4 linked regions of the Homo sapiens genome follow. The protein of the gene in region 2 binds, or shares a complex with, the protein of the main gene of each other region. Each region holds a gene or a part of one and is shown on either strand. Other genes may lie near its edges.

Region 1 (7,022 bases), on a different chromosome or scaffold from region 2:
GAGGCCAAGGTGGGCGGATCACATGAGGTCAGGAGTTCCAGACCAGCCTGGCCAACATGGTGAAACCCCGTCTCTACTAAAAATACAAAAATTAGGCCAGGCGCAGTGGCTCACACCTGTAATCCTAGTACTTTGGGAGGCCAAGGCAGGCGGATCATTTGAGGTCAGGAGTTCGAGACCAGACTGGCCAGTATGGTGAAACCCCGTCTACTAAAAATATAAAAAAATGAGCCCAGCATGGTGGCACATGTCTGTAATCCCAGCTACTTGGGAGGCTGAGACATAAGAATCGCTTGAACCCAGGAGGCAGAGGTTGCAGTGAGCCGAGATCACGCCACTGCATTCCAACCTGGGCGACAAGAGCAAGACTACGTCTCAAAAAAAAAAAAAAAAAAAAAAAAAAAAAAGATAAGCTTCGGTTATCTCCTTCAGAAAGCCAACTTTGATTCAACATTCAGCAAATACTGAGCTATATGCCATGCTCTGGGTATATGCATGAGCATGACCCCTATCCTTTTGGAAGTTAAGAGTCTAGGAGAAGCAGACATCAAACAACACATCTACAGGCAATTACAAAATATAGTATGAAAGAGGAAAAAAACAAATAGCTATGAGAGGGAATAAAAAGGGGCTATAATTTAAAGAGGGTGTGTGTGAATCAGGTGACTCTCCCCAGGCACCCAATCATCATACATGTGCAACTATCATAGCACTTATCACATTATTGTATCATTGTCTCCTTAGCTGCCTATCTTCCTCTTTAGATGGAAATTCTTCAAACCAAAGGTCAGATAAATTGACACTAACAAGCAAAATCTTAAAAAGAATAAAAAAAAAGGCAATGTCCAAATTCTAGTCCAGGTTTTTAAACTCCCAATTTTACTAGTGCATTTAAAAAAATAAAATTATGGGCCAGAGGTGGTGGCTCAAGCCTGTAATCCCAGCACTTTGGGAGGCCAAGGTGGTAGGATTGCCTGAGGCCAGGAGTTTGAGACTAGCCTGGGCAACAGAGCAAGATCTTATCTCTACCAAAAATAAAAATGTTAGTTGGGCACAGTGGCACGCCCCTGCAGTCCCAGCTACTTGGGAGGCCAAAGTGGGAAGATCACTTGAGCCCAGAAAGTAGAGGCTACAGTGAGCTGTGATCAAGCCACTGCACCCCAGCCAGGGTGACAGAGTGAGACCTCGTCTCTTTTTTTTTTTTTTTTGAGACGGAGTTCCGCTCTTGTTGCCTAGGCTGGAGTAAAATGGTGCTCTCAGCTCATCACAACCTCCGCCTCCCGGGTTCAAGTGATTCTCCTACCTCAGCCTCCCGAGTAGCTGGGATAACAGGCATGCGCCACCATGCCCAGCTAATTTTGTATTTTTAATAGAGACGGGGTTTTCCCGTGTTGGCCAGGCTGGTCTTGAATTTCCAACCTCAGGCGATCCGCCAGCCTCAGCCTCCCAAAGTGCTGAGATTACAGGCGTGAGCCACTGCGCCCGGCCTAGATCTCATCTCTTAAAAAATAAAAATAAAAACTAAAATTACTTTTTTACAGTCTTAATATCTATAAAATCCATACTAGAGGTTTACAAAGGATTGTCAAGTACAGGATCTGGTAAACACACTTTCACAAGTGGGTAAGAATAATTTTTAATTAGCATATTTAAGTGGGTTTTTAAAGTTTTGTAGAACTGACATTAAAATGAGATTTTAAAAATAAGTGCCCCTAAAAGTCTAATCACCCTGCTATCATCATCATCTCCTGGGCTCCCCCACGTGTCCTTACCCATTTACACATATAATTTTTATATATTTGGCTGCAACCCAACAAGTGGACATACAACCATTTATTTTGTATGCCCCATTAGTTGGACATGCAAATGTTATCTATATTTTCAAATTTATAGATAACTTTATGTTGATCATTTTTGTGCTTAGAGCATTTTTTATTCTTTTCAGAATATATTTCTAAGGATAAATATCCAGAAGTATATTAAAGCTCAAAGCATGTGGACATCACTTTTTATTATTATTTTTTATTTTTTTGGTTTTAAGAAATAGAGAGTTTAACAGGCAAGAAGGAGCAAGAAAGGAGAAGGAAGAAGCTTCCCTGTACAGAGACAGAGGGATGGGGGCTCCAAAGCCAACAGAGGGAACCCCCGACTTCTTTATTATTATTTATTTTATTTTTAGCAAAGATGAGGTCTCAGCATGTTGCCCAGGCTGGTCTCGAACTCCTGGTCTCAAGTAATCCTCCTACCTCAGCCTCCCAAAGTGCTGAGTTTACAGATGTGAGCCACCTTGCCTAGCCATCATCATTTATTCTTCAATACAAATTTCCAAATTGCCTTTGAAAAACAATGTACCATTTCTTTCATTCTGAATGTACTCAACATTTTCTATTTACTAAAATGTGGTAAAATACACATAATGTAAAACTTACTGTATTAACCACTTTTAACCATATAGTTCAATAGTGTTAAGTACCTTCACACTGCTGGGCAACCAATCTCCAGAACTTCCTTCATCTTGCAGAACTGGAACTCTACACTCCTTAAACAACTTCCCATTCTCCTCTCCCCACAGCCCCTGGCAACCAGCAATCTACTTTCTGTCTCCATGAATTTGACTTCTCTAGGTACCTCATGTAAGTGGAATCACAGAGTATTTGTCTTTTTGACTGGCTTATTTCACTTAGCATGATGTCTTTCAGGTTCATTCAAGCGGTAGCATGTGTCAGAATTTCCTCCTTTGAAGGCTGAATAATATTTCACTACACGTATATACCACATTTGGTTTGTTCATTCATCCGCTGATGGACACTTGGCTTGCTTCCACCTTTTACCTACTGTGAACAATGTGCTATGAACATGGTTGTGCAAATATCTCTTCGAGGCCTTGCTTTCAATTACTGTGGATATATACCCACACGTGGAACTGCTGGGTCACATGGTAACTCAACTTTTAACTTTCTGAGGAACCGCCATACCACTTTCCATAGTAGCTGCACCATTTCTCATTGCCACCAACAGTCCACGAGGGTTCCAGTTTCTCCACATCCTCACCAATACTTATTATTTGGGGGACTTCTGGTGATAATAGCCTTCCTAACAGGCGTGAGGTAGTATCTCACTGTCCATTTGATCTTTAAAATTATGACTATTCTTGAGACATTTCTGTAAATTTTATATATCAGAGCAAAAACAAATTTCAGTCCAGTTTTTCTTCAAATTTTTTTTTATTCTGAATAAGAGGAAACAAATTAGGCTTCAAAAAGCTAGTCTTCTTGTTTGCTTAGTCTTAACCGGATATTTATATTGGTCTAAAACAGGAAGAAAACTTATTAAATTACCCCAGAAATATGCAGGAATGCATTATGCATGATCCCAATTGGTAAGACTTAAAAGTTTTCTTAACTCTTATGTTTTATTTGTTTTTTTGTTTTGAGATGGAGTCTTGCTCTGTTGCCTGGGCTGGAGTGCAATGCTGCGATCTAGGCTCACTGCAACCTCCATCCCCCAGGTTCAAGCAATTCTCCTGCCTCAACCTCTAGAGTAGCTGGGATAACAGGCAACCACCACCACACCCAACTAATTTTTGTATTTTTCGTAGAGAGAGCGTTTCACCATGTTGGTCAGGCTGGTCTCGAACTCCTGACCTCAGGTGATCTCCCCACCTCGGCCTCCCAAAGTGCTGGAATTACAAGCAGGAGCCACCACGCCTGGCCAACTCTTATGTTTTATGTTAAGCAGATACTAATACTTACTAATTCACTAGATACGTACCAAACACTTTCTTTCCCATTTATTCAGCATTCCTTTATTGTATTTTTTATTTATTTATTTATTTATTTTGAGACAGAGTCTCACCCTGTTACTCAGGCTGGAGTGCAGTAGTGTGATCTCAGCTCACTGCAACCTCCACCTCCTGGGTTCAAGCGATTCTCCTGCCTCAGCCTCCTGAGTAGTTGGGATTACAGGCACGCGCCACCACACTCAGCTAATTTTTTGTATTTTTAGTAGAGACAGGGTTTCACCATGTTGGCCAGGCTGGTTTTGAACTCCTGACCTCAAGTGATCCACCTGCCTGGGCCTCTCAAAGTGCTAGGATTACAGGCGTGAGCCGGCCTCAGCATTCCTTTGATGCCAGGCACTGTGGCAGGTGCTGGGGATGTAAAAATGAATAAGAAAACATTGTCCCCATTACAACATTATGAAATATTGGGGGTATAATTATCCCCACTTTACATCTGAGGAACTTGAAGCTACTTATGTTTAGCATCTCGGCTAAGATCAGATAATTAGAGCTTGGGGAAGACGGAATTCAAATTCAAGTCTTACTTCAAAGCTCAACCTTTGTACTGTCCCACAGGCTACACTCTATACTATCGACAGTTACTATGAGGCCAGGCAGGGTGGCTCATGCCTGTAATCTCAGCACTTTGGGAGGCCAAGGCAGGCAGATCACTTGAGCTCAAGAGTTCGAGCCAGGCGTGGTGGCTCACGCCTGTAATCCCAGCACTTTGGGAGGCCGAGGTGGGCGGATCACAAGGTCAGGAGATCGAGACCATCCTGGCTAATACGGTGAAACCCCATCACTACTAAAAATACAAAAAATTAGCCGGGCGTGGTGGCAGGCACCTGTAGTCCCAGCTACTCGGGAGGCTGAGGCAGGAGAATGGTGTGAACCTGGGAGGCAGAGCTTGCAGTGAGCCAAGATCGTGCCACTGCACTCCAGCCTGGGCGACAGAGCGAGACTCCATCTCAAAAAAAAAATAAAAATAAAAAAAATAAAGAGTTTGAGACCAGCGTAGCCAACACAGTGAAACCCTGTCTCTACAAATTAAAAAAATTAGTCGGGCATGGTGGCTTGCGCCTGTAGTCCCAGCTACTTGGGAGGCTGAGGTCGGGGGAATCGCTTGAGCCCAGGAGGTCGAGGCTGTAGTGAGCCGTGATGGCACCACTACATTCCAGCTTAGGCAACAGAGGTTGCACCACCACATTCCAGCCTGGGCAGCAGAGCAAGACCCTGTCTCAAAATAAAAGAAGAAAAAAAAAACAAAGACGTTATTTAAGGGAACCCTTTTTATAAAGTAATAGGCACCTGAAATTTCTGTTTTTTACTTTATATTTCCAAATGTTGGGTTTTCAAAAGAGTGGCACAATGAAGGAAATCAGAAACAAAACAACAAACCTTGTAAAACCTCTTCCATTTAGGAGGTGATAATTGAATTAGAGGCACTTTATCAAGCAATGTTATCAAAGCACGCAAAGTAACAAAGAATATTTTAATAGAAACAAAAATAGTAAATCCTAGAGTGAGCTTTTAATATCTGCAGCTTACTAAAAAGTTCTTACTTTCCAAAGCTCACTGGCTGCCAAAAGTTCAAATTTTATAACTAAGCAGTTTGTTTCCTAGACGTGAGTCTAATTACAAACAGAAGATCCTTCCAGTCCTATATAAAATTCTCTAAGAGACAGAAACAATAAGATTTAAGGAGCCAAAGAATCAACAATTGCATTGACTCTCCATTTAAACAGACAAAACAGAAGGAAAAGAAAGAACAAAACAAAAAATGTTCTGGCTGAGGAAACTTTGGAAAAATAATAAACCTTCAAAAATATTTTTTCTCATCCCGTTTCAAACATTCTTCTTTCAGTTAAAAAAGTGGTTTTAAAAATAATTTGGTTCTAAAGGTTAAACTTTTAGCTAATATAATTCTGTATAATTTTTAATCTATGAAAAAATAAATTATACTGTATGAAAGCAAAAAATGCTACAAATAAGTATAACAACTTCAACGTACATAATCTTAGAAAAAAATTTTATGAGCACAATAGCCCCTTCTAATTTAGGTAATTTTTCTTATCAATATTCTCAATACTTCTATCAAAGTTAATCTCTAAATATTGAAGAAGAGTGGATAGGATAGGTACCCTGAAACTTATTCCCCCTTTAGAACTTTTAGAAATCTCAATATTAAGGATGAACTATTTAAAACATATGTGTATTTCTACAATGAGGTTTTTTGTAGTTGTTTTTTAAAGACATGCTAGTGAATACCGTGGCACTGTGAAATAAAACGTTTTGTTGAGCCAGATGGAATAGAAGAATGTATCTTACCGGTAAAGCAGAGGGGAAAAGAGACCTAAAACGAGTTTTGTGTACTTTTAGGTATAGAATAAGTTTGGGGAAAATAGCTAGGAATGCTTTGGTTAAAATCTCATAAGCTGTCTTTGATTAATTCAAATGTTCTGAATTCAACAAATATTTATTGATTACCTACCACGTTCCAAGCACTCTGCACAACACTCAGTATTAACAGATCAGAAATGGTCCCAGATCTTTTGGAACTTAGAGGGTACTGAACACATCCTTCAAAATTATCCTTTCTTTTGTGTGATTCCACGGTCATCAAATGACTTCTGAAATACAAATTCACACTACCCGAAGCTTAGTACCCATAAAACAGTATATTATTATATTAGTATATTGCCAAAATTATTATATTAGTATATTGGCAAAATCAGCCTTCAAGTCAATGTATATACCCTTATTTAAATTAATAAATCATTCAGGTTTGCACATCAGTCTTTTATGAGTTTAGTTGAGTGAATCCTCAAAACTTAATCAATTCTGATTAATTGGTTAGACGTAATTTCTGAAAATTCAAAATACAGTAGCTGACAATCAAATATAGTAATAGACTATTTCCATAAAAAGATCTTACCACCAAAATGAGTCTCTACTTAGTTTATCCTCTAACAAAATGCCTTTATTTCATAATACCCTTCACAAACTGCAATTAGTTAATCCATAAAACTGTTAACAATAAATGAGATACAGCACATGAGTGCTTCTCGAACTTTGTTTTTTGTTTTTGTTTTTTTTTTTTTTTGAGACGGAGTCTTACTCTGTCGCCAGGCTGGAGTGCAGTGGTGTGATCTTGGCTCACTGCAGCCTCCGCCTCCCCGGTTCAAGCAATTCTCCTGTCTCAGCCTCCTGAGTAGCTGGGACTACAGGGCGTGCCACCACG
Region 2 (7,415 bases):
TGAAATTCAGAAGAGGTTAAATATACAGGGAAAACTTTAATGAAAGGTTATTTATGTATTCCAAGGCTTGCAGAAGATGGGTTTTAGAAAAGTATAAAACCTGCCAGACATGGTGGGTCATGCTGTGGTGGGTCATGCCTGTAATCTCAGCACTTTGGGAGGCTGAGGCGGGTGGATCACCTGAGGTTAGGAGTTCGAGACCGGCCTGACCAACATGGTGAAACCCTGTCTCGACTAAAAATACAAAAATTAGCTGAGCATGGTGGCAGGTGCCTGTAGTCCCAGCTATTTGGGAGGCTGAGGCAGGAGAATCGCTTGAACCCAGGAGGCGGATGTTGCAGTGAGCTGAGATGGCACCACTGCACTCTAGACTGGGCGACAGAGCTAGACTCTGTCTCAAAAAAAAAAAAAGTATAAAACCCATCTGGGAAATTGAGTCAGATAAATAAATGTACAGACAGGATATGAGGCAGAATGGAATTCATCTTGATATTCTCTTAGAAGAAATGGGTAATGAGTTTAAGGTGGGTGTGTGGGGCCCAGAGGATTGCTCCTTTGCACTTCCTGCTAGTGTGCTAGCAGAGGTGAGTGAAGGACTCCTCAGGAGAACATGATCTTAGACAATGGAGAATGCATATAAGGGCCTCCTCTATGGGTGCAGAACAATGCAGTAAGCTGGTAAGGAAGGAATGCTTTCACCCAGAGGGGGAACTGGGGACTGCCTCATTGCAGCTTTGTGATGTTATAGTAACTGGCGGCCTAGATGAGAAGAGGCCATCCCTTCCTTGATGTACCCTGACTCTCAACTCAAGTCCATTTCTGCCACCTGCTCCACCGCCATATCACAGACTGAGCCATCACTCAGAATGGCTGCACCCTGAATTGTAAATATAAACGTTCCACTTTCTGACCCCCACCTCCTGTGTTTCCAGCTCCCTCACTTAATTACTCCCTCTACTTCTCTTCACTCACCTCTTAGAGGAGTCTTCACTTTCTGTCCATGTATCAGTATGATATCCTTTTCTCATTTCCCACTGAGTCCTTAGAGTCCTTGGCCCATCACTTCAGATACTCAGGAGCTTAGCTCCCTAACCTACTGCCTTTCCATTCTATTAATATATGCCTGGCAAATTCCTATCCCAGACGAAGTCAACTTGGTTATCTCTGTACCTACATCTGATTTACTGACTGCTACTTGAGAAAATCACACAACCGGGAAGATGGGTACCATTCTCCCTACATATTTTCAAGCACAATTGTATAGAGGTACAACACAAAACTCACTGTAATAAATTAAAACAATACAGCTATGGACAGAGTAAAAAGTTAGAATTCTCCATCTTTTCCCCCAAAACCATTCCACAAGACATCTGTTATTAACAGTTTGGCATAGGTTCTATGCATGCACTATTGTCTTAAAGCTAGATATATACACATATATGTACATAAACACATATACAACATATATGAAATCAAATGGACAGCTAGAGCAGAATGGACAGTTGCTAAGCAACTTGCACTTTTTCTTTTTTACTTAATAATATGTGTTGGGAGCCAGCCATGTGGTGTATGCCTGTAGTCCTAGCTACTTGGGAGGATGAGGTGGGAGGATCAATTGAGCCCAGGAGTTTGAGGCTGCAGTGAGCTAGGATGGAGCCACTACACCCTAGCCTGGGTGGCAGACCAACACCCCGTGTCTCAATAATAATGATGATAATAATAATATGTCTTGGAGGACATTTCTTCTTAGTAGGTACAGATATACTTTATTCTACATAATGCCTCATTCGCTTAGTCACTCTAGGTCATTTACTATTTTTACTATGAAACAAAGTTATAATGAATATCCTTGTACATCCTCCTGAACACATGTGCAAGTATTTCTCTAAAGTAGATCCCTAGAAGTAGAAATGCTTGGTTAAAGGGTACATGTATTTAACATCTTAATAAATATTTCTCAATTACCATCCAAAAAAGAGACGGGTGGGGGGTCTCTACCAAATTGCCCTCCCAACCGCCTAGGAGCGTTACTACCCTCAGGTAGGACCTCCTCTTTCTTTCCCTAGACATCTCTCTCCCTCATTCTCCACATAACGTATCTTTGCTCGAACCTCCTACTGCACCAACATCCCCATCCCCACTCAAACACGCACATTCTTGGTAAATATCTCACCAACTATTTGTAGAGAAAAAAAGAGGTCAACAAAGGCAAATGTTCTCAGCTTCCTACCCCCAAACCTACAAAACCTAATGTCTATCCCCTTCCTGTCTTCCTTCCCTACTCTTATAACGGCAGTAGGAGGGCAGTCCTTCCTGTTGTCTAAAGGCAATCCTGGTTGAGAGGGTCCTTACCTTCACAAAGGGCTGACTACACTGACCAAAGGTCTCAGCTTCCACTCTTCCCTCCGCTAACCTCCATCTATTTTCTGCCCTCACGGCTCCATGGAAACCTCAGGCTCACCTTGGGCAGAATCCAGCTCCTTATCTTAGGTGACTAGTGCCTACTCCCTACTTCTGACAACATTCTTCATAATGCCAGTCTGCTGATTTTCCTCCTCAGGCTCTCTGGCACTTCTTTCTCACTCCTCCACTCCTCAGGTACTTCTTGTCCAAACCTTAAAATCTGAGTTTGGGGTTTCCGATCTGGGCCTTGTGCTCATTCCCCCTGGGAGATGTCACCCATTCCCCACGTGCAGCCACCATCACCCTCTGTTTTCTCTCTAATCAGCGTCTTCAGCCCTGATCGCCTACAAGTCCGAATTTGACTTCACTTTCTCGCATTCTGCCCCGCCTTCCCTCCACTCCTCCCCAATCCCGAAACCTAGTCCCTCCTCCGGGAAGTCTTTCCTGACTCCTCCCCCTTCTAACTCCCCACCGACGGTCTGTGTCCGCTGCCACGCGTGTCCAGTACCTCGCAGACCTGAGGAATGTAGTTCTCCTTGAAGTAGTTCTTCAGCCTCGGGTTGGCATTGCGTAGCGAGGCCATGGCCCAAGGCCTGACGGAGAAGCTGCGATAGTACCCTCCCCGCGCTGGGACTAGGGGCCGGGCGCGTGCGGGCGTTGTCCCGGCAACCAGGGGGCGGGGCTGGGCGTGGCACCGCCCCGCGCTCCGCTGCCAGGGGCGGGAGGGAGGAATGGTTGCTTCACGCCCCGGGGGAAGAGACGGGAAGCTCGGCTCTGGGTTGCGGGCCCCGGCGTCTCCGCGTGGGGCGCACCGTCCGACCCCCCCCTCCCGGTGTGCAGCGCCCCGCACCGCCCCGCCTCGCCTGGGAGAAGCCGCCGGGACGCGCCGGGCTGGAGTGGGCGGTTATAGGCTTTGAGCTAGGCCGTTTCCGGGAGGCGGAGCTCAGACCCCATTTCCTTTCTCCACATCCAGGTCAGGTGGCGTTTGCTGTGGCGGCTAGGCCCGCGTGCGCTGGAGACCTCCGCGCTGGCCCCCGCGAGCCTCCTGCCCTGGCCCGGCGCTGCGGCTCTGCCGCGGCGGCAGCATGGGTGGCCCCCGGGGCGCGGGCTGGGTGGCGGCGGGCCTGCTGCTCGGCGCGGGCGCCTGCTACTGCATTTACAGGCTGACCCGGGGTCGGCGGCGGGGCGACCGCGAGCTCGGGATACGCTCTTCGAAGTCCGCAGGTGGGACCCCGGGGTTTCCGGCAGGTGGGCGGGGACTGGGCAGGGGGGCTCCCCAGGCCGGGGTGGTGGCTTGCGTGTGCTCGGGGTAAAATGAGGAGCCGAGCTAGAGGGAGAGGCAGTACTTGTGTGAGTGCAGGGTGCTGCGCCGCCCCCGCCGCCCCTTTGCTGACTATACTGGTATGAAAACTTGCCCTGGCTTTCCTGCCTGAGCTCCGCGTCACAGCGGAGGATTAGATTTCTTAAAAACCTGTTGATGGCCTCTCATTTTAAAGCTTGCTCCGGGCCTTTGTGTAACTAAAGGGATTCTCCCGATTGTGGAAGGGCTGTTGAGGGGCCCAGAGCCATAGGTCAATCTCTGCTTGCAGGTGCCCTGGAAGAAGGGACGTCAGAGGGTCAGTTGTGCGGGCGCTCGGCCCGGCCTCAGACGGGAGGTACCTGGGAGTCACAGTGGTCCAAGACCTCGCAGCCTGGTGTGTGTTTTGGAAATGGGAACAGTTGTCTGCGCGAGACACACCCTCCCAGCGGACAAATGCATGATTCGGTTTCTGTCCAAAAGTTGATCGGTACATTAAAACCCTCCAAAGGCATGTTTCACATCATGGAAGCTGTTAGGGAAATAATTTAAAATATCATATCTGCCATCCAAGAAACTCCTGTCCACAATTGTAGAAGAGAGCTAAACAGCTTCATTGTTGAATAAGCACAAACTAAATTGCCTCACACATCACGGGCAATTTGCTAATGGGATAGCAGGAAGAATTCTAATTCCTTTAAATGTAGCTGGACAGATAGAACCGATTTCATATTACATACGTGTTCTCAAGATAAAAAATAATTTGTCCTTAGGTAAGAGGACTTGACAGTACCATTTGCTACATGTAGTTTATCCTGAATTTACTGGTAATTGGGGTGGTTGTTATCTAATTGCCTTTATCCAGAGGAAAAATAAAAATATCTTTATGATGTGGAACCAGGTGCCCAGGCTAAAAACTCACAGAGTTGGGGAGATTGGGGATCTATCTTCCTGGAAGAGTAGGTTTCAAAGAGTACGCTTTCGAACAGTAGGCTCCAAAGCTTTTAAGAAAGTCTTTCTTGGGCTGTAAAACTGGCCAAATGCTTATTTCACTTTTAAAAAGATTTACAGGCTGGGTGTGGTGGCTCACACCTGTAATCCCAGCACTCTGGGAGGCCAAGGCAGGCGGATCATGTGGTCAGGAGTTCAAGACCAGCTTGACCAACATGGGGAAGCCCCATCTCTACTAAAAATACAAAAATTAGCCGGGCTTGGCGGTGGGTGCCTGTAATCCCAGCTACTCAGGAGGCTGAGGCAGGAGAATCACTTGAACCCAGGAGGCAGAGGTTGCAGTGTGCCAAGATTGCACCATTGCACTCCAGCTTGTGCGACAGAGCAAGATTCTGTCTCAAAAAACAAAAAACAAACAAAAAGATTTACATTTGTATCAAAGAAGCAGAAAAAGGAGTTTTGTTTTGTTTTCAGACAGGGACTCCCTCTGTCACCCAGGCTCGGTGCAGTGGCGCAATCACAGCTGCAGCGGCGCAATCACAGCTGCAGCCTCCACTTCCCTGGGCTCCTCCCACCTCACCCCACTAAGTAACTAGGACTACAGGTGCACACCGACACCTGGCTAATTTTTCCAATTTTTTAGGAGATGAGTTTTCACCATGTTGCCCAGGCTGATTTGAACTTGGCTTAAGCAGTGCTCCTGCCTCAGCATCCCGAAGTGCTGGAATTACAGGATTGAGCCTCCTCACCTGGCCAATAAAGGATTTTTAATTACAAGTTTGCACGAGGGAATGCTTTAAGAAAAAGGGAGTGGAAGGGGAAGGTCTCTCTCACTTTTGCCACTAGGTATAATTCAGCTTTTTTTTTTTAAAGATTTGTATGTACCCTTACTGTATTAGTCCATTTTCTGTTGCTTATAATAGAATATCTGAAACTGGGTAATTTATTAGGAAAGAAATTTATTTCTTAGAGTTATGGAAGCTGAGAAGTCCAAGATTGAGGGGCCGTAGCTGGTAAGGGCTTTCTTGTTGTGGCATAGGGCATCCCAAGGCCAGAGGGGCAAGTGTGTTAACATGCTGACTCAGGTCTCTTGTTCTTATAAAGCCACCAGTCCTGCTCATTAATCCATGAATGGATTAATTCATTCATGAGGACAGACCCCTCATGATCCAGTCACCTCTTAAAGGCCTTACCTCTCAATACTGCCACATTGGGAATTAAGTTTCGACATGAGTTTCGCAGGAGACATTCAAATCATAGCATTTACAAAGCCTAATTTGTTGTCTTTGCCCATGTCAGAGATATTTTTGTATAAGTACATTGGGAAGGTGTCCTGGACTCAGATATCTTCTCAGTTATACTGACTCAATCTGATGAATGTGGACAGTCTTTTAAACTTAACAGTTCCCATAATCATCATTATCTTAGGTAAGGCAGCTTAAAAAATAATTTGCTCACAGTCCCTTCTTCCTGAAGCTACTCCTTTATCATTGAAGAAGACTTGAGAAATGCTCATTTCATCATCAATATGGTTTGGCTTTGTGTCCCCACCCAAATCTCATCTTTTTCTTTTTTTTTGAGACGGAGTCGCACTCTGTCTCCCAGGCTGGAGTGCAGTGGCATGATCTCAGCTCACTGCAACCGCCACCTCATGGGTTCAAGCGATTCTCTTGCCTCGGCCTCCGGAGTAGCTGAGATGACAGGTACACACCATGTGCCTGGCGAATTTTTTTTGTATTTTTAGTAGAGACAGGGTTTCACCATGTTGGCCAGGTGATGTGCCTGCCTTAGCCTCCCAAAGTGCTGGAATTACAGGCATCAGCCACTGTGCCCGGCCCAAATGTTATCTTGAATTGTAATCCCATAATCCCTACATCGTGGGAGGGACCCGGTGGAAGGTAATTGAATCACGGGGGCAGTTCCCCTCCCCTCCATGCTCTTCTCGTGATAGTTCTCAGGAGATCTGATGGTTTTATTAGGGGCTTCCCCCTTTGCTCTGCACTCCTTCTCTTTCCTGCTGCCTATGAAGAAGGAAGTGTTTGCTTCCCCTTCCACCATGATTGTAAGTTTCCTGAGGCCTCCCCAGCCATGTGGAACTGTGAATCAATTAAACCTCTTTCCTTTATAAATTACCCAGTCTCGGGCAGTTCTTCATAGCAGCATGAGAATGGACTAATAAAGTCATCATCACGCTTAGATTTCAGAAGATGATCTTTTGTTTTTTGTTTGTTTTGTTTTTGTTTTTTTTTGAGACGGAGTCTTGCTCTGTTGCCCAGGCTGGAGTGCAGTGGCGATCTTTTCTTTGTTTTAAACTCACACCTCTAATCCCTTTGGGAGGCTGAGGTGGAAGAATCGCTTGAGCCCAGAGTTCAAAACCAGGCTGGGCAACATAGTGAAACCCCATCTCTACAAAAAATAGAAAAATTAGCCAGGCATGGTAGTGTGCACTTGTAGTCCCAGCTACTCAGGAGGCTGTTTTGGGAGAAACCCTTGAGCCCAGGAGGTCAAGGCTGCAGTAAGCTGTGATTGTGCCGCTGCTCTCCAGCCTGGACAAAAGAGCAAGACTCTGTCTTAAAAAATAAAAAATAAAATAATTTTTGTACTAACGTGGTTTGAGAGCATTGAAAAAGACGGAAACAGTCCCAATTCATCCAACAATCTAACGTCATAACCTGACAAGGATGGTAAGAAAAACTATAAATCTGTCTCAACTATGAATAAAGATATAAAAATCTTAAAATATTAGCAAGTCAAATCTATCAGG
Region 3 (7,022 bases), on a different chromosome or scaffold from region 2:
CTCATTGGGACATTTGATGAGGGACAGTTCAGGGCAGAGGATGCATATTTGCAGAAGCTGCATCCAAGTGGATGGTCAGGGAGGCAAGAGGAGGGCAGTCTTAGAGGGAAGTCTCTAAGACCAGGTAACAGGATTGTATGGCCCAACCTGGCTTTTCAGCAGACACCATCAGCCCTGCACCAGGAGTTTCTCCAGCAGTGCCCAGTGGAATGAAAAACAGAGCACAGGGGCTGCCTAGCATCAGGGACCAGCAGGGCAGAAGGACAGGAGGTTCAGGGAGGCCCAGATGCTGGGAAGGCATGTAGACAAAGATAGGAAGTAGGGCCAGCAGGGAGGCAAGAATCAGGGGTGGAAAGTGGGGGAAAATATCCCTCCTGGATGTCCTCACCAAGAGGGTTGATAAGGATGAGAATGTGGTCCAGCCACGAACGGCAGCCTGGAGTCAGCCTCACATTGTGACTGACCAAATCTACAGATCCCCCCTGTGCTGTGGTGTCTCAGTCAAATCCCTCTGGACCATTAGCAACAGAATCTACTGGAGGCTGGGCACGGTGGCTCATGCCTGTAATCCCAGCACTTTGGGAAGCGGAGGCAGGTGGATCACCTGAGGTCAGGAGTTTGAGACCAGCCTGGCCAACATGGTGAAACCCCGTTTCTACTAAAAATACAAAAAATTAGCCAGGCGTAGTGGTGGACACCTGAAATCCTAGTTACTCAGGAGGCTGAGGCAGGAGAATCGCTTGAATCCGGGCGTTGCAGTGAGCTGAGACCGCGCCATTGTGCCCCAGCCTGGGCGACAGAGCGAGACTCTGTCTCAAAAAAAATAAATTAATTAAATTAAAAAATAACCTACTGGAGCTAGCTTAAGTAGAAGAGGATTTCATGTGAGAAACAGGAAACTCTCATGAGGCCTGGACCTAGGGACATTAGGGACTGGAAAGCCAGCAAGAAGGAGGCAGCCTCTGTCTGTGTCGATCTGTCTGTCCTTTGTCTTTTGTTTTCTGATTCCCAGGTTCCCATCTCTGCTTTTCTCTGTGCATCTGCCTCCTCCCCCTCTTGCTCTCTGCTTAACTATGTACCCAGCCAGCCCACACTCCCTATTCCTCCCCAGCTCAAGCAGCCAGCTCCGATGGGCACTCTCATTCCACAGCCTCAACTTCACATCTCCCACGGGGAGGACGTGAATGGGCAGCTTGGGTCAGGGGCTCCCTCTGCACCAGGAGAAGCTTGTGGTGTGGTGTGGGGCATACACACATGACGGCCTGGAGGGGGTGAGGTGCTCAAGGAAGAGGAGCTGCAGGCTGACAGGCCTGGCTGGGGCTGCCCAGGGAGCACAGTCAGTGGTTGGTACCCACAAGCCCAAGTGAGGATGGGCATACAAAGTCAGAGGCCTGACACAGGGCCACAGTCATAAGATGAGTCAAGATCACAGGCTAGGGAGACCAGTGTGGACACCAGTCCAGTGGGTCCAGCGAGGGTCCCAGCTGTGGCTGTAGGGTCAAGGGATGAAACCCTGTGGACAGGCCCAGGTGGTTGCCAGGAAGCCCTGGAGCAGCCTTGGCGTAAGTATACAAACCCCGAGATGCAGCAGACCCAGGGCTGGGCGTGGGGCATTCCTCAGAGTGCCAGTGGCCACAAGACACTACAGGGGGAAACCTCAGCCAGACCCTGCCCTCAAACAGAGAAAGAAGCAGGCCGTGAAGGAAGAATGCGGTGTTTTTTAGGGAAAACGTGGGGGAAGATGAACCAGCCGTGCAACTCGATGGAGCCGAGGGTGATGGACGATGACATGCTCAAGCTGGCCGTCGGGGACCAGGGCCCCCAGGAGGAGGCCGGGCAGCTGGCCAAGCAGGAGGGCATCCTCTTCAAGGATGTCCTGTCCCTGCAGCTGGACTTTCGGAGTATGTATCCAAGGTTCAGGGGTGGTGGCCAGGGTGGGCCCTCCCTGGCTTTCTCTGCTCCATCTTCAAGCCCCAGGATTCCATGCAAAGTCCACGGTCGAGGTTCCCACATCAGCATTAGGGCCTACCTGGGTTACAAGGCATAGGAGCAGCACAGATGTTTGTAAAGCGTCATACTTAGTGTCTTCATCATTTGAATATCCACGACGCTCCGGATTCTGAATAAGAATAGAAAACAAGATAAAATTGTCCCACGCCAAATCTAAGTGAGCCCCCAAGACTATGCTGTTTCCATCACACAACTCCACATGGGTGTCCTTGGAGTGGGGGTCCCTGGCAGGCAGAGCCTAGGAAGTCCCACGTAGCCAGAAGCAGAGGGTAGGAAGTGTGGGAGAATGAGAGCGGGCACTGGGATGGCAGCTTCAGGGAAGGGGTGACCAAAGACAGGCTGGTAGCAGGAGGAGCACAGGCCCTTGAGGCAGGGAGGCACATCAGGAGTGAGAAGATGTGGCTCAGGACCAGGCGGACCCTCACTGCTTCAATGTCCCGTCTGTGGAATGGGATGGCTGTCATCCCTGTCTCGAGCATTGGGTGGGGGGACAAGGTGAGACAGCACGTGCACAGTGCCTGGCTCACACAGCAAGCCAGGCACAGTAAGTGAAGGCAGAGGCAGTACGAGGGCAGTGAGAGAGGTGGGCAGGGATCCTGAGACCCCCCTTTGTATCATGTGCAGGCAAGGCCACAGCAGAGTGACCTGGTCTGATTCACATTCGTGCTCTGTCTTGGGGCCCCTAGGCTGGCCGGCATCCAGTCAACAACAAGGAGGTATTGAGACCCTGCCTCAGTCCAGCCCTGCTGCCAGAGCCAGGGACACGACAGTGGGCAAGTCAGGCATGGCCCAGGCACAGCCCCACGAAGCCCATAGGCTCCCAGGGCTGACCACCCAATCAGGGAGGGCCCTGAGCCACAGCCCCGGGAGGGGTAAAGGGGCACAGAACAGGTGCGGCAGGAGGGGGCTTTTGCAGCTGACCGCTTGCCCTCTGTTTCCCCTCCCCAACCTGAGGTTCATGCAGCCAGTATTGAACACCTGCCTGTTACATGCCAGGTACTGTTCTGAGCACTAGGGATTCAACTATGAGCAAAAAAAGACAAAAGCCTTGTCCTCATGGAGCTGACATTCAACTTGATGGGGGACAATTAAATAAAATGAAGAAGGAAAATAATACTATTTGCTAAACGTAATATGTGGTGTGGAGGAAAAAAGGAAGGAGAGGAGAAAAGGGAAGTTGGGGGTGGAGTACAGTGTTTTATAGAGTGGCCAGGGGCTTCACCAAGAAGGTAACAATTTAGCAACAACTTGAGGTAGGCAAGGGAGAGAGCTGCTGTGCAGATCCACCAGGGAAAGTGGAGCAGCCAGTGCAAAGGGCCTGGGGCAGGCTGGACCCCGCCTTATCATCTCTGCTGAGGAAGCCACTGTGGAGAGACAGGTCGGGGAGGTCATGGTGTCAGCTTGGAGACAGTGGAAGGTGTTTGGCTCTTACAGTGAGTGAAGTGGGGACCCCGGGAGGGTCCTGAGCAGAAGTGGGACAGGATGGGACTTAGGATTTCACAGGACCCTGCTGGCTGCGTGAGGATAGACCGTGGAGGCCAGGGGCCGAGGCAAGGATCTAGTAAGATGGCCACTGCTGTACTCCAGTGAGTGATGACCACAGGCCTGGCCGAGGTGGTGGCCACAGGGGCAGATTTAGTGTCTTTGTTGAAGATTAAATCGGCTTTTTTTGGCAGTCCTGTCATGCTGGTAACTCATTTAGAGCTAACTGCCAAGTACATCCTGATTTGTTGTGTTGTTTTGGCTTTTCCTCCTGAACTGCTGACACCTGGGAAAAAGCCGGCATGCTGGCGTGTGTGGCAGAGCACCCGGTGTGCAGGAGCCACAGGGGGAGTGCTACTGCTGGGGGGCTGTCAGATCAGGGCCAGAAAAGGCACCTGGAAAATCCAACCCAGGGTTGGGAGGTGGCCGGGAGGCTGGGGCAGAACTGGCCCCACCCTGGAAGCACAGGTGGGAATTGTGGCCAGTATCATTCTGGGAAATCTGGCCACAAACAGGGAGCTGAAGAACAGGCACCAGTCCCACCCAGCCCTGGGAACCCAGGAGAGGCACTACGCAGCAATCCGGCTCTAGGGGAAGGGCAGTCCCACCCAGCCCTGGGAACCCAGGATAGGTGCAAGGCAGCAATCCAGCTCTAAGGGAAGGGCAGTCCCACCCAGCCCTGGGAACCCAGGAGAGGTGCAGGGCAGCAATCCAGCTCTAGGGGAAGGGCGGTGTGCCCCTCTGGACCTGGGTCAGAGAACCCTGTCCTCCCCAGAACTTTGTGCAGGGAGGGGAGCTAGGAGGGGTTCCCCACTTTCCCACTGGGACTTTCACAACCTCACAGGCAGGCTCTGCCCCTCTGAATGAATATTGAAACGGCAGCTGGACTGTATGTTTTTTTTTTGTTTGTTTGTTTGTTTTGTTTTATTGTTGTTGTTTTTTTTTTTGTAGAGACGGAGTCTCGCTCTGCCGCCCAGCCCAGGCTGGAGTGCTAGAGTGCAGTAGTGCGATCTCAGCTCACTGCAACCTCTGCCTCCTGAGTTCAAGCAATTCTCCTGCCTCAGCCTCCCAAGTAGCTGGAACTACAGGCATATGCGGCCACGCCTGGCTAATTTTTTTTATTTTAGTAGAGATGGGGTTTCACCATGTTGCCCAGGCTGGTTTCGAACTCCTGAGCTCAGGCAATCTGCCTGCCTCAGGCTCCCAAAGTGCTAGGATTATAGGTATGAGCCACTGCGCCCAGCATTTTTTTTTTTTTTTTTTTGAGATGGAGTCTCACTCTGTCGCCAGGCTAGAGTGCAGTGGCACGATCTAGGCTCACTGCAACCTTCACCTCCCGGGTTCAAGTGATTCTCTTGCCTCAGCCTCCAGAGTAGCTGGGACTACAGGTGTACACCACCACACCCAGTGAATTTCTGTATTTTTAGTAGAGACGGGGTTTCACCATGTTGGCCAAGATGGTCTCGATCTCTTGACCTCGTGATCTGCCCACCTCGGCCTCCCAAAGTGCTGGGATTACACGTGTGAGCCACCGCACCTAGCCACTAATTTGTATTTGTATTTTTTATTTTTTTGGCATGAATCTCATTTATTGAAAACATTATATTTCACCTTTCTCAAATTGAAGACTGCAAAAAATAAAAGCAGTGCTTTACTGAGTTCTCATTAACCTCAGGAGCAGCAGCGCTGCCTCTCCACGCTCCAGGAAACCCTGGCTCCCGCGTGCCACATCTGTCGCACCTCACTTTACAAAACAGTCCTGAAGCTTAATCAAATAAAACTATTGTACATTAGAAAAAGAGAGCTGGGTGTAGAAAAGCCAGGTGTAAGTTCCCTTTAAGCAAAGGCTGCTCTGCAGTTGGGGCATCTTTGCTTCCTCCAGGAAAAACAGCAGATGAACCCAAAGGGGAACAGGATGATGGCCAGGAGGATTCCCAGGAAGGTGAAGCAGTCCTCCAGCACCCTATCCCTGCAGACGGGACAGCCTCTCATGATGGCGATGGCATTGGCAGGGTACCAAGTGATAGTCCAGCTGTGGTCATTGTAGACCCTGGGGTGGTGGTTGGGTATCCCTGTGATGAGGTAAGGGGAGGGCGGGCAGCAGCAAGGGATGGGCAGCAGGGATGACGCTGTAGCCATGCAAGCTGCATGCATAGTTGCCCTGGCCGGCCCCTAGGTTGTAGGTGGGCAGCCACTCCCACAGCAGGGGCGTGTGGTCCATGGCAGCCCGGCTCAGGTCAGTCGGTCCTGGCAGGGGACACAGTGGGGGACGTGGCAGGGATGCAGCAGACTGGCTGGCTCAGGCTCCTCTGAGGCACAATGCCTCAGCACCGATTTTTATTTTTTTTTATTTATTTATTTATTTAGAGACAGAGTCTTGCTTTGTCACCCAGGCTGCAGTGCAGTGGCATGATCTTGGCTCACTGCATCTCTGCCTCCTGGGTTCAAGTGATTCTGCTGCCTCAGCCTCCTGAGTAGCTGGGACTACAGGGACACCAGCTAATTTTTGTATTTTTATTATAGAGACAGTGTTTTTCCATGTTGGCCAGGCTGGTCTCAAACTCCTGGTCTCAAGCAATCCACCGGCCTTGGCCTCCCAAAGTGCTGGGATTACAGGTGTGTGCCACCATGCCCAGCCACAGGACCAAATTTTTTTTTTTTTTTAAACAGTCTCACTCTGTCATCCAGGCTGGAGTTCAGTGGCGTAATCTAGGCTCACTGCAACCTCTGCCTCCTGGGTTCAAGCGATTCTCCTGCCTCAGCCTCCAGAGTAGCTGGGATTACAAGCGCGTGTCACCACGCCCAACTAATTTTTGTATTTTTAGTAGAGACAGGGTTTCACCATGTTGGCCAGGATGGTCTCCATCTCTTTTTTTTTTTTTTTGAGATGGAGTCTCGCTCTGTCGCCCAGGCTGGAGTTCAGTGGCGCAATCTCGGCTCACTGAAAGCTCCGCCTCCTGGGTTCACGCCATTCTCCTGCCTCAGCCTCCCGAGTAGCTGGGACTACAGGTGCCCGCCACCACGCCCAGCTAATTTTTTGTGTTTTTAGGAGAGACAGGGTTTCACTGTGTTAGCCAGGATGGTCTCCACCTCCTCACCTCCTGATCTGCCTACCTTGGCCTCCCAAAGTGCTGGGATTACAGGCGTGAGCCACCACGCCTGGCCCACAGCACCAATTTTGAAAACTTCTTTCACTTCTGTATTATTTCAGTTCTTTTAATGAGCATATTCTTTTTTTTTTTTTTTTTGAGATGGAGTCTCGCTCTGTCACCTGGATTGCAGTGGCGCGATCTTGGCTCACTGCAACCTCTGCCTCCCTGGTTCAAGCGATTCTCCTGCCTCAGCCTCCCAAGTAGCTGGGACTACAGACGTGCACCACCACGCCCAGCCAATTTTTTGTATCTTTAGCAGAGACAGGGTTTCACCACATTGGCCAGGATGGTCTCGATCTCTTGAACTTGTGATCCGCCCGCCTCGGCCTCCCAAAGTGCTGTGATTACAGGCGTGAGCCACTGCGCCCATCCTTAATG
Region 4 (7,886 bases), on a different chromosome or scaffold from region 2:
TCCCCACAACAAAGAATTTTCTCACCCAAAACATCAATAGAGCTGAGGTTGAAAAACCCTGACCTTTTTTTTTTTTTTTTGAGATGGAGTTTTGCTCTCGTTTCCCAGGCTGGAGTGCCATGGCGTGATCTCGGCTCACTGCAACCTCTGCCTCCTGGGTTCAAGCGATTCTCCTGCCTCAGCCTCCCAAGTAGCTGGGATTACAGGCATGCGCCACCACGCGCAGCTAATTTTTTTTTTTTGTATTTTTAGTAGAGACGGGGTTTCTCCATGTTGGTCAGGCTGGTCTCAAATTCCCTACCTCAGGTGATCTGCCTGCCTTGGCCTCCCAAAGTGCTGGGATTTACAGGCGTGAGCCACCGTGCCCGGCTGCCTTTTTTTTTTAATAGACAGGGTCTTACTCTGTCACGCAGGCTAGAGTGCAGCAGTGCAACCATGGATTACTGTAGCCTTGACCTCCCCAGGCTCAGGTGATCCTCCCACCTCAGCCTTCTGAATAGTTGGGACTACAGGTGCATACCACCATGCCTGGCTAATTTTTGTATTTTTTGTAGAGATAGGGTCTCACTTTGTTACCAGGCTCCTAGGCTCAAACTCCTAGGCTCAAACTAGGATCCTCCTGCCTTGGCCTCCCAAATTGCTGGGATTACAGGCGTGAGCCACTGGGCCAAAAACCCTCAACTTAACATGTTTTTGAGGTTCATCCAGGTTGTAGCAATTATTAGTATTTCATTCCTGAATAGTATTTTATTGCTGAATAGTATTCCATTCTAAGGAAATATCATGAGTTATTTATTTATTCACCTGTTGATGACATTTGGGTTGTTTCCAGTTTTGGGCTGTTAAGGGTGATGTTGCTAAGAACATTTATATTTAAGTCTTTGTGTGGACTTATGTTTTCACTTGGGAGGGGTAACTTCCTAAGAGTGGAATTGCTAGGTTATGTGTAAGTTTATTTTTTGTTTTATTTATTTATTTTTGAGACAGGGTCTCACTCTGTCACATAGACTGGAGTGCAGTGGCACGATCTCGGCTCACTGCAACCTCCGCCTCCTGGGTTCAGGTGATTCTCCTGCCTCAGCCTCCCAAATGGCTGGGATTACAGGGACCCGCCAGCATGCCCTGCTAATTTTTGTATTTTTAGTAGAGACGGGGTTTTGCTATGTTGGCCAGGCTGGTCTCGAACTCCTGACCTCAGGTGATCCACCTGCCTGTGCCTCCTACAGTGCTGGGATTACAGGCACGAGCCACTGTGCCTGGCCTATGTTTAACTTTTTAAGAAACTGCCAACTATATTTCAGATTGGTGGTACCAATTGGTATTCTGCTGTACCTACCGGCAACATATGAAAGCTACAGTTTGTTTATTTATCTACATGATGATACTTGGTATTGTCTTTTTGATTTTTAAATGTCTACTCAACTCTTTTGCCCATTAAAAAAATTGAGTTGTCCTCTTATTGAGTTATAAGAGTTATTTTTATATTCTATATACAACTCTTTTATGACACATGATTTGCAAATATTTCCTCCATGTCTGTGTCTGTGGCTGATCTTTTCATTTTCTTATGAAAATATCTTTTGAACCTCAAAGTTTTTTTTTTATATATTTTTTTGAGACAGGGTTTTTCGCTCTGTCGCCCAGGCTGGAGTGCAGTAGTGCAATCATGGCTCACCGCAACCTCCGCCTCTTGCGATCAAGCAATTCTCCCACCTCAGCCTTATTTATTTATTTATTTATTTATTTATTTTTTGAGCTGGAGTCTCGCTCTATCACCCAGACTGGAGTGCAGTGGCACGATCTCGGCTCGCTGCAACCTCCACCACCCGGGTTCAAGAAATTCTCCCGCTCAGCCTCCTGAGTAGCTGGGATCACAGGCACACGCCACCAGGCCCGGCTAATTTTTGTATTTTTAGTAGAGACAGGGTTTCACCATGTTGGCCAGGCTAGTCGCAAACTCCTGGCCTCAGGTGATCTGCTGGCCCAGGTGATCTGCTGGCCTCGGCCTCCCAAAGTGCTGGGATTACAGGCTGAGCCACCGCGCCCGGCCCTTAGCCTCATTTAATCATCACAAGAAACTCTCTGTCTTCAGTAGGTACAATGAGATCACATCTTAAGGATGGAGATGGGAGTTAAATTCCAAAGTTAGGATAAAGGCAAAAGTGGTGTAATAAAAATTACCTAATTTATTTATTTATTTGAGACAGAGTCTTGCTCTGTTGCCCGGGCTGGAGTGCAATGGCGCTATCTTGGCTTACTGCAACCTAAGTCTCCCGGGTTCAAGTGATTCTCGTGCCTTAGCCTCCCGAGTAGTTGGGATTACAGGTGCGCCTCCATGCTCAGCTAATTTTTGTATTTTCAGTAGAGATGGGGTTTCACCATACTGGCTAGGCTGGCCTAGAACTCCTGACCTCAAGTGATCTGCCCGCCTCGGCCTCCCAAAGTGCTGGGATTACAGGCGTGAGCCACCATGCTCGGCAAAAACAACAACAACAACAACAAAACAAACAAACAAAACTACCTAATTTAAACACTGAAGTGAGATTGCCTGCTCACCGAGGAACGTATGGCCGTTGGGTGAAATGGGAGGGGACTTATAAACTCCCCTCCCACCCACAGCTCCCATGTTTGACTTGAAATAAGTTAACTACGATATGACTCTGCTTGACTGTTGTCCTCCTCGTTTTAGGGATGAGGGAGTGGAGCCATGAAGTGGGCAGGTAGAAGGGCAGAATGGAGGCCGGCTCCCTGCAGGTTGTGGAGCGAAAGGTCCAGACTAAGGCAGGAGCTGAGGGACAGGGTCCTGAAGCTGAGACGAGATCGCAGCGGGGGCTTCTAATTCCTCAGGGAGCCAAAGGACAGAGGGCTGAACCCTATTCCACATCTCCCCCGATCCGCGACCCTTTCCCAACTGGCTACTCACCTGCTCTGACCGCTCCAGGTTTCCCTAGCCACAGTTACCGCCGCGGTCCCTGCGTTGCTAGGTTACCCGCCAATCTCAGAAGGCGAGACTCGGTGTCTGACTGACCTTTCTTTTCACCATTCAATTTATTGTTCCGCTCAGTTGTCCCCACCTCCTGAAGTCTGACCAATCAGAAGCACCGCCATTTTGACCTTTCACCAATGGAAAGACTTGGGACTCCCTCTGGGTTGGACTCAACGAGTAAGGCGGGGAACAAGGGAGGAGTAAGGGGCGTGGATTCTTCGTCCCGCCCCTTCTTAAGGAGGCGGGCAGGGAGTACCGCATCGGCGGCGGGCGAGACCTGCGGAAGGACGTGATAGTTGGCCAATCAGAGTTCATCACGGTAGCCCAGTTAGCCAGTAGGACGCTGTGAAGGGGAAATGGGGCGGGGCCAGCGGGGTTGAGAGGACGGTAGGCGGTGGATAGGAGAGCTGGCGCAGCTGCCCTGGTGGCAGTGGCTGAAGTGGCGGCGGCTTCGGCGGCTGCGGCGGCTGCAACAGCTTCGGGCTCGGGGTTTTGGCGGCGGCGCCGGCGGGCTAGGCTGCGCGGTGCGGACCCCGGCGCGCGGTCCGGGTTGCTGGGGCGGCGCGTGTAAGAATCCGAGGGATGCGACGGCTTGGCCCGAGGGAGAGGGCAGGGATCAGGGGTCAGAGGACGCGGAGTAAGGGGTTGCGGCGCAGCACTCTGGTGTGGGAGGTGGGCCGTACGGGCCCAGAGGGGGCGCAGGGAAGTCTCCACCGCGCTTCTCTCCGTCCAGCCCGGGCCGGGGCTTTGCACCCTCTCTCCTCGCCCCCGACTTCTTAGGGCGACCCTCACGTGGGCTCCCAGCCAGGGGCTGGGAGCACGTGGAGCTGGAGCCAGCTGTCCTGCCTCCTTCTTCCTCCCTCCCTCGCTCTTCTCCCTGGCGCCCTTAGGTGACCCCACAGGAGTCTTGTGCCTGGGTCAGGCTGCCCCAGCGGACAGCGGGATGGTAGCTGAACCTCTTCCCCTAGGCCCTTTCCCCAGCGCTGGCCAGTTGGGTCCTCTGTAGAGGCAGAAGCAAAGCCCGCGGAGGGAACACTGGACCAGGACGCAGGAGTCCCGGGTTCTAGCCCTACTCCTCCACTGTGTGACCTTGGGCAAGTCTCTTCCCCTCTCTGGGCCTCATTTTTGTCTGTCTGGAAAAATGACGTGTTTGAATTCAAATCAGGGGACTGGTTCTAGTCGTAGGTGTATATAGGGTAATGGTTAAGCAGGCAGGGTCCCTGATTCAGACTGCCTGGGTTGAAACTTATAAAAGGCAAGTTAACCACTCCAAGCTTCAATTTCCTCATTCCTAAAGTGGGGATATTAGCTAAGATAGGATTTTTCAACAGCAGCTCAGTTGACATTTTGAGCCACATAATTCTGTTTCGGGAGGTCTCACCTGTGCATTGAAGCAAGTTCAGTGGCATACCTGGACTCCACCCACCAGCAATCCCCCCACTCCCAAGTTGTGACAGTCAAGATGTCTCCAGACATTGCCGATGTCCCCATGGGGGCAAAAATCACCCCAGTTGAAAGCCAGTGGGCAAAGGCAGTACAGGCAGGCAAGCAGTCATATATTAAACAGTTAAACAACCGTGTTGAAGCATTTGAATGCGAGGACTTTAATCTATGGTGGCAGATATCATGAAAATTATGCATGAACAACCCCCCTGCCTCTTTTTTTTTAGCTCATCATTAATGGTAGTGTATTTTATGTGTGGCCCAAGATAGTTCTTCCAGCGTGGCCCAGGGAAGCCAAAAGGTTGGACAGCCGTGAGTTAAAACATAGAAACCACTAGCCATTATGATAATGGTAACATTAAGAAACCTCTTCTCTGTGAGTTAATAAATTCTCCTGCCTTCAAAGTAAACATGGGAGATAATTGTCAAAGCTGAGTAATGGATACAAGGAAGTTCACGTATATATTCTCTGCACTTTTGAGAATGTTTGAAAATATCTGTGGTAAAAAGTTAAACCAAAACGACAATACAACCATAATTCTTAAGACTGCCAAATAGTAGTGTCTCATCTGGGATTTCCTCTTCTGCCTTTCCACTGCTGAGATTTAAAAGCAAAATAAATCCCCAGATCTGGAGGAAACTTAAGAAAAAAAAACTCACAGGAAGTGTGCTGGGCAGAGAGCTACGGGCTTAGCAGCAAGTAGAATGATGTTTACTTTCGCTGCCTTGTTTCAAAACGTTGTACTGTTCCCTGTGGATGCACAAGGATTTGCTTGGAGTTGTTCCAATGATTCGAGGAAGAAGTCAGTTGCTCAGCTGCCATTGACTAGGTCAGTTGGGAGGCAAAGTGGGTTGAGCCCAGAGCCCACAGCTTGAGGAAGGAACCTGCTGCTGTTTGCAAGTTCAAAGGTCTGCAGTCAGATCTGCTGAGTCTTTTTTTTTTTTTTTTTGGTTCTTCTCAGCGGAAACGGGAATGTGCATAAATAGGAGCTGTAACAGGCTAGCTCGGAGTGTTTTACTTATTTAGTTATTTTTAAATTTTTAGTTTATTTATTTTTTGAGATGGAGTCTCGCTCTGTCGCCCAGGCTGGAGTGTAGTGGCGTGATCTCAGTTCACTGCAACCTCTGCCTCCTGGGTTCAAGTGATTCTCCTGCTTCAGGCTCCCCAGTAGCTGGGATTACAGGCATGCACCACCACACCTGGCTAATTTTTGTATTTTTAGTAGAGACCAGGTTTCGCCATGTTGGCCAGGCTGGTCTCAAACTCCTGACCTCAAGCGATCCACCTGCCTCGGCCTCTCAAAATGTTGGGATTACAGGCATGAGCCACCACTCCCGGCTGCTCTGAGTGTTTTAAATTGGGAGTTAAGGATGAGCACTTTTACTGTATTAAAAAATACTCACCAGTTAAAAAAAAATACTCTTTTCCCCTTCCTCGGACACCTAAATCTAAGAGAACAACTCCTATATAAAAATGATATAAAAATCATACATTTTGGAAGTATGTTTCTAACTGTTCTGAGAGGCTGCATGGTAAAGCTGAAGTGAAAGATGTATTTTAAATCTGTATATATGAGCAAGTATATATTGATGATTGAAGCTAGGTGCTGCCTAAATACATGGCCCAGACTTTGAGGAATTATAGTGTAATGGCTGGGAATACAGGTTTGGAGTCACACCGTAGAGCTGAAAGCTTGGCTTTTATTTAGCTGTGGGTCCTTGGGCAGGATACGTAATCTGTCTGTGCCTGAAATACCCACCACACCCATCCTGTAATGGGGGGATAATAAGCCTGCCTATCTCATGGGGCTATTAAGAATTTTCAGTTAACTTTTACTTATGAAGTGCTAGTAGGGTCCCTCATACATAGTACGCACTCATTGAGTATTAACTATTATTATTATTACTATTTTGAGACGAGTCTCGCTCTGTCGCCCAGGCTGGAGTGCAGTGGTGCAATCTCGGCTCACTGCAAGCTCCGCCTCCCGGGTTCACGCCTTTCTCCTGCCTCAACCTCCTGAGCAGCTGGGACTACAGGCGTCTGCCACCACGCCCGGCTAATTTTTTGTATTTTTAGTAGAGACGGGGTTTCACCATGTTAGCCAGGATGGTCTTGATCTCCTGACCTCGTGATCCGCCCGCCTCGGCCTCCCAAAGTGCTGGGATTACAGGCATGAGCCACCGCGCCTGGCCGCATATTAACTATTATTTTAATGGTTGTATTTTTTTGTCATTTAATTTAATTAAATTAATTTATTTATTTATTTGAGGTGGAATCTGGCTCTGTCGCCCAGGCTGCAGTGCAGTGCACCATCTCGGCTCACTGCAACCTCTGCCTCCTGGGTTCAAGTGATTCTCCTGCCTCAGCCTACAGAGTAGCTGGGATTACAGGCGCAAGCCACCACACCCAGCTAATTTTTGTATCTTTAATAGAGGCGGGGTTTCTTCATTTTGGCCAGGCTGGTCTTGAACTCCTGAGCTCAAGTGATCCACCCGTCTCTGCCTCCCAAAGTGCTGGGATTACAGTTGTAAGCCACCGTGCCCAGCCTTTTATTTTACTTTATTTTTTAGAGACAGGGTCTCACTCTGTTGTCCAGGCTGGACTGCAGTGGTGTGATCATAGCTCACTATAACCTCCAACTCCTGGGATCAAGTGTTTCCGTCACCTCAGCCTCCCAAGCAGCTAGGCCTACAGGCATATGCCATCATACCCAGCTAATTTAAAATTTTTTATTTTGTAGAGATGGAGTCTTGCTACATTGCCCAGGCTGGTCTTGAACTGCTAGGCTCAAGCAGTTCTCCCACCTTGACCTCCCAAAGCGCTGAGATTACAGGTGGGAGCCACTGTGCCCAGCCTATTTTTTTCTTTGAAGTCTTTACAAAACTTACAAATAAATGTAAAGAGAAGTGGAGGTAGGACATATTGGCCCTAATGTCACTCTCCAGACAGAATTACCCTTAACTTTTCAGTATTTGTTCTTGCAGGGTTCCCTCCCTCCGTATTTTAATGCTATTATACTGTAATAATGCTTTTATTCTGTTTTTATTTATTTATTTATCTTTATTTTATTTTTTTGAGACAGAGTCTCGCCCTGTCACCCAGGCTGGATGGCTCTATCTCGGTTCACTGCAACCTCTGCCTTCCGGGTTCAAGCGATTCTCCTGCCTCAGCTTCTTGAGTAGCTGGGATTACCGGCACGTGCCACCCCGCCCAGCTAATTTTTTGAATTTTTGGTAGAGATGGGTTTTCACCATGTTGGCCAGGCTGCTCTCAAACTCCTGACCTCAGGATCCGCCCGCCTCGGCCTCCCAAAGTGCTGGGATTACAGGTGTCAGCCACTGTGCCCGGCCTAATTCTTTTATTTTTTAAGAGACAGGATTTCACTCTGTTGCCCAAGCCAGAGTGCAGTGGTGCAGTCATAGCTCACTGTAGCCTTGAACTCCTGGGCTCAAGTGA

Evidence for each region.
Region 1: FBXL13 (region 2) and DRC8 share a complex: the UniProt entries of both Homo sapiens proteins name them as parts of the nexin-dynein regulatory complex.
Region 3: FBXL13 (region 2) and DRC3 share a complex: the UniProt entries of both Homo sapiens proteins name them as parts of the nexin-dynein regulatory complex.
Region 4: FBXL13 (region 2) and DRC10 share a complex: the UniProt entries of both Homo sapiens proteins name them as parts of the nexin-dynein regulatory complex.

What each region holds. Positions count from the first base shown.
Region 1 is NC_000001.11:244,972,678-244,979,699, reverse strand, and holds part of DRC8 (dynein regulatory complex protein 8), read right to left. Parts: exon of another isoform or gene 6,402-7,022; coding exon of another isoform or gene 6,273-6,401; intron 1-6,272. UniProt on the Homo sapiens protein: Component of the nexin-dynein regulatory complex (N-DRC), a key regulator of ciliary/flagellar motility which maintains the alignment and integrity of the distal axoneme and regulates microtubule sliding in motile axonemes.
Region 2 is NC_000007.14:103,071,785-103,079,199, forward strand, and holds the start of FBXL13 (F-box and leucine-rich repeat protein 13), read right to left. Parts: upstream 3,013-7,415; 5' UTR 2,987-3,012; coding exon 2,912-2,986; intron 2,785-2,911; exon of another isoform or gene 2,462-2,784; intron 1-2,461. Other genes in the region: ARMC10 (armadillo repeat-containing protein 10), read left to right, coding at 3,489-3,627, 3,993-4,211. UniProt on the Homo sapiens protein: Substrate-recognition component of the SCF (SKP1-CUL1-F-box protein)-type E3 ubiquitin ligase complex.
Region 3 is NC_000017.11:17,975,858-17,982,879, forward strand, and holds part of DRC3 (dynein regulatory complex subunit 3), read left to right. Parts: intron 1-1,698; exon of another isoform or gene 1,699-1,724; 5' UTR 1,725-1,741; coding exon 1,742-1,901; exon of another isoform or gene 1,902-2,119; intron 2,120-5,131; exon of another isoform or gene 5,132-5,374; coding exon of another isoform or gene 5,375-5,434; exon of another isoform or gene 5,435-5,803; intron 5,804-7,022. UniProt on the Homo sapiens protein: Component of the nexin-dynein regulatory complex (N-DRC) a key regulator of ciliary/flagellar motility which maintains the alignment and integrity of the distal axoneme and regulates microtubule sliding in motile axonemes.
Region 4 is NC_000012.12:113,218,074-113,225,959, forward strand, and holds the start of DRC10 (dynein regulatory complex protein 10), read right to left. Parts: upstream 3,022-7,886; 5' UTR 2,924-3,021; intron 1-2,923. Other genes in the region: TPCN1 (two pore channel protein 1), read left to right, coding at 7,173-7,263. UniProt on the Homo sapiens protein: Component of the nexin-dynein regulatory complex (N-DRC), a key regulator of ciliary/flagellar motility which maintains the alignment and integrity of the distal axoneme and regulates microtubule sliding in motile axonemes.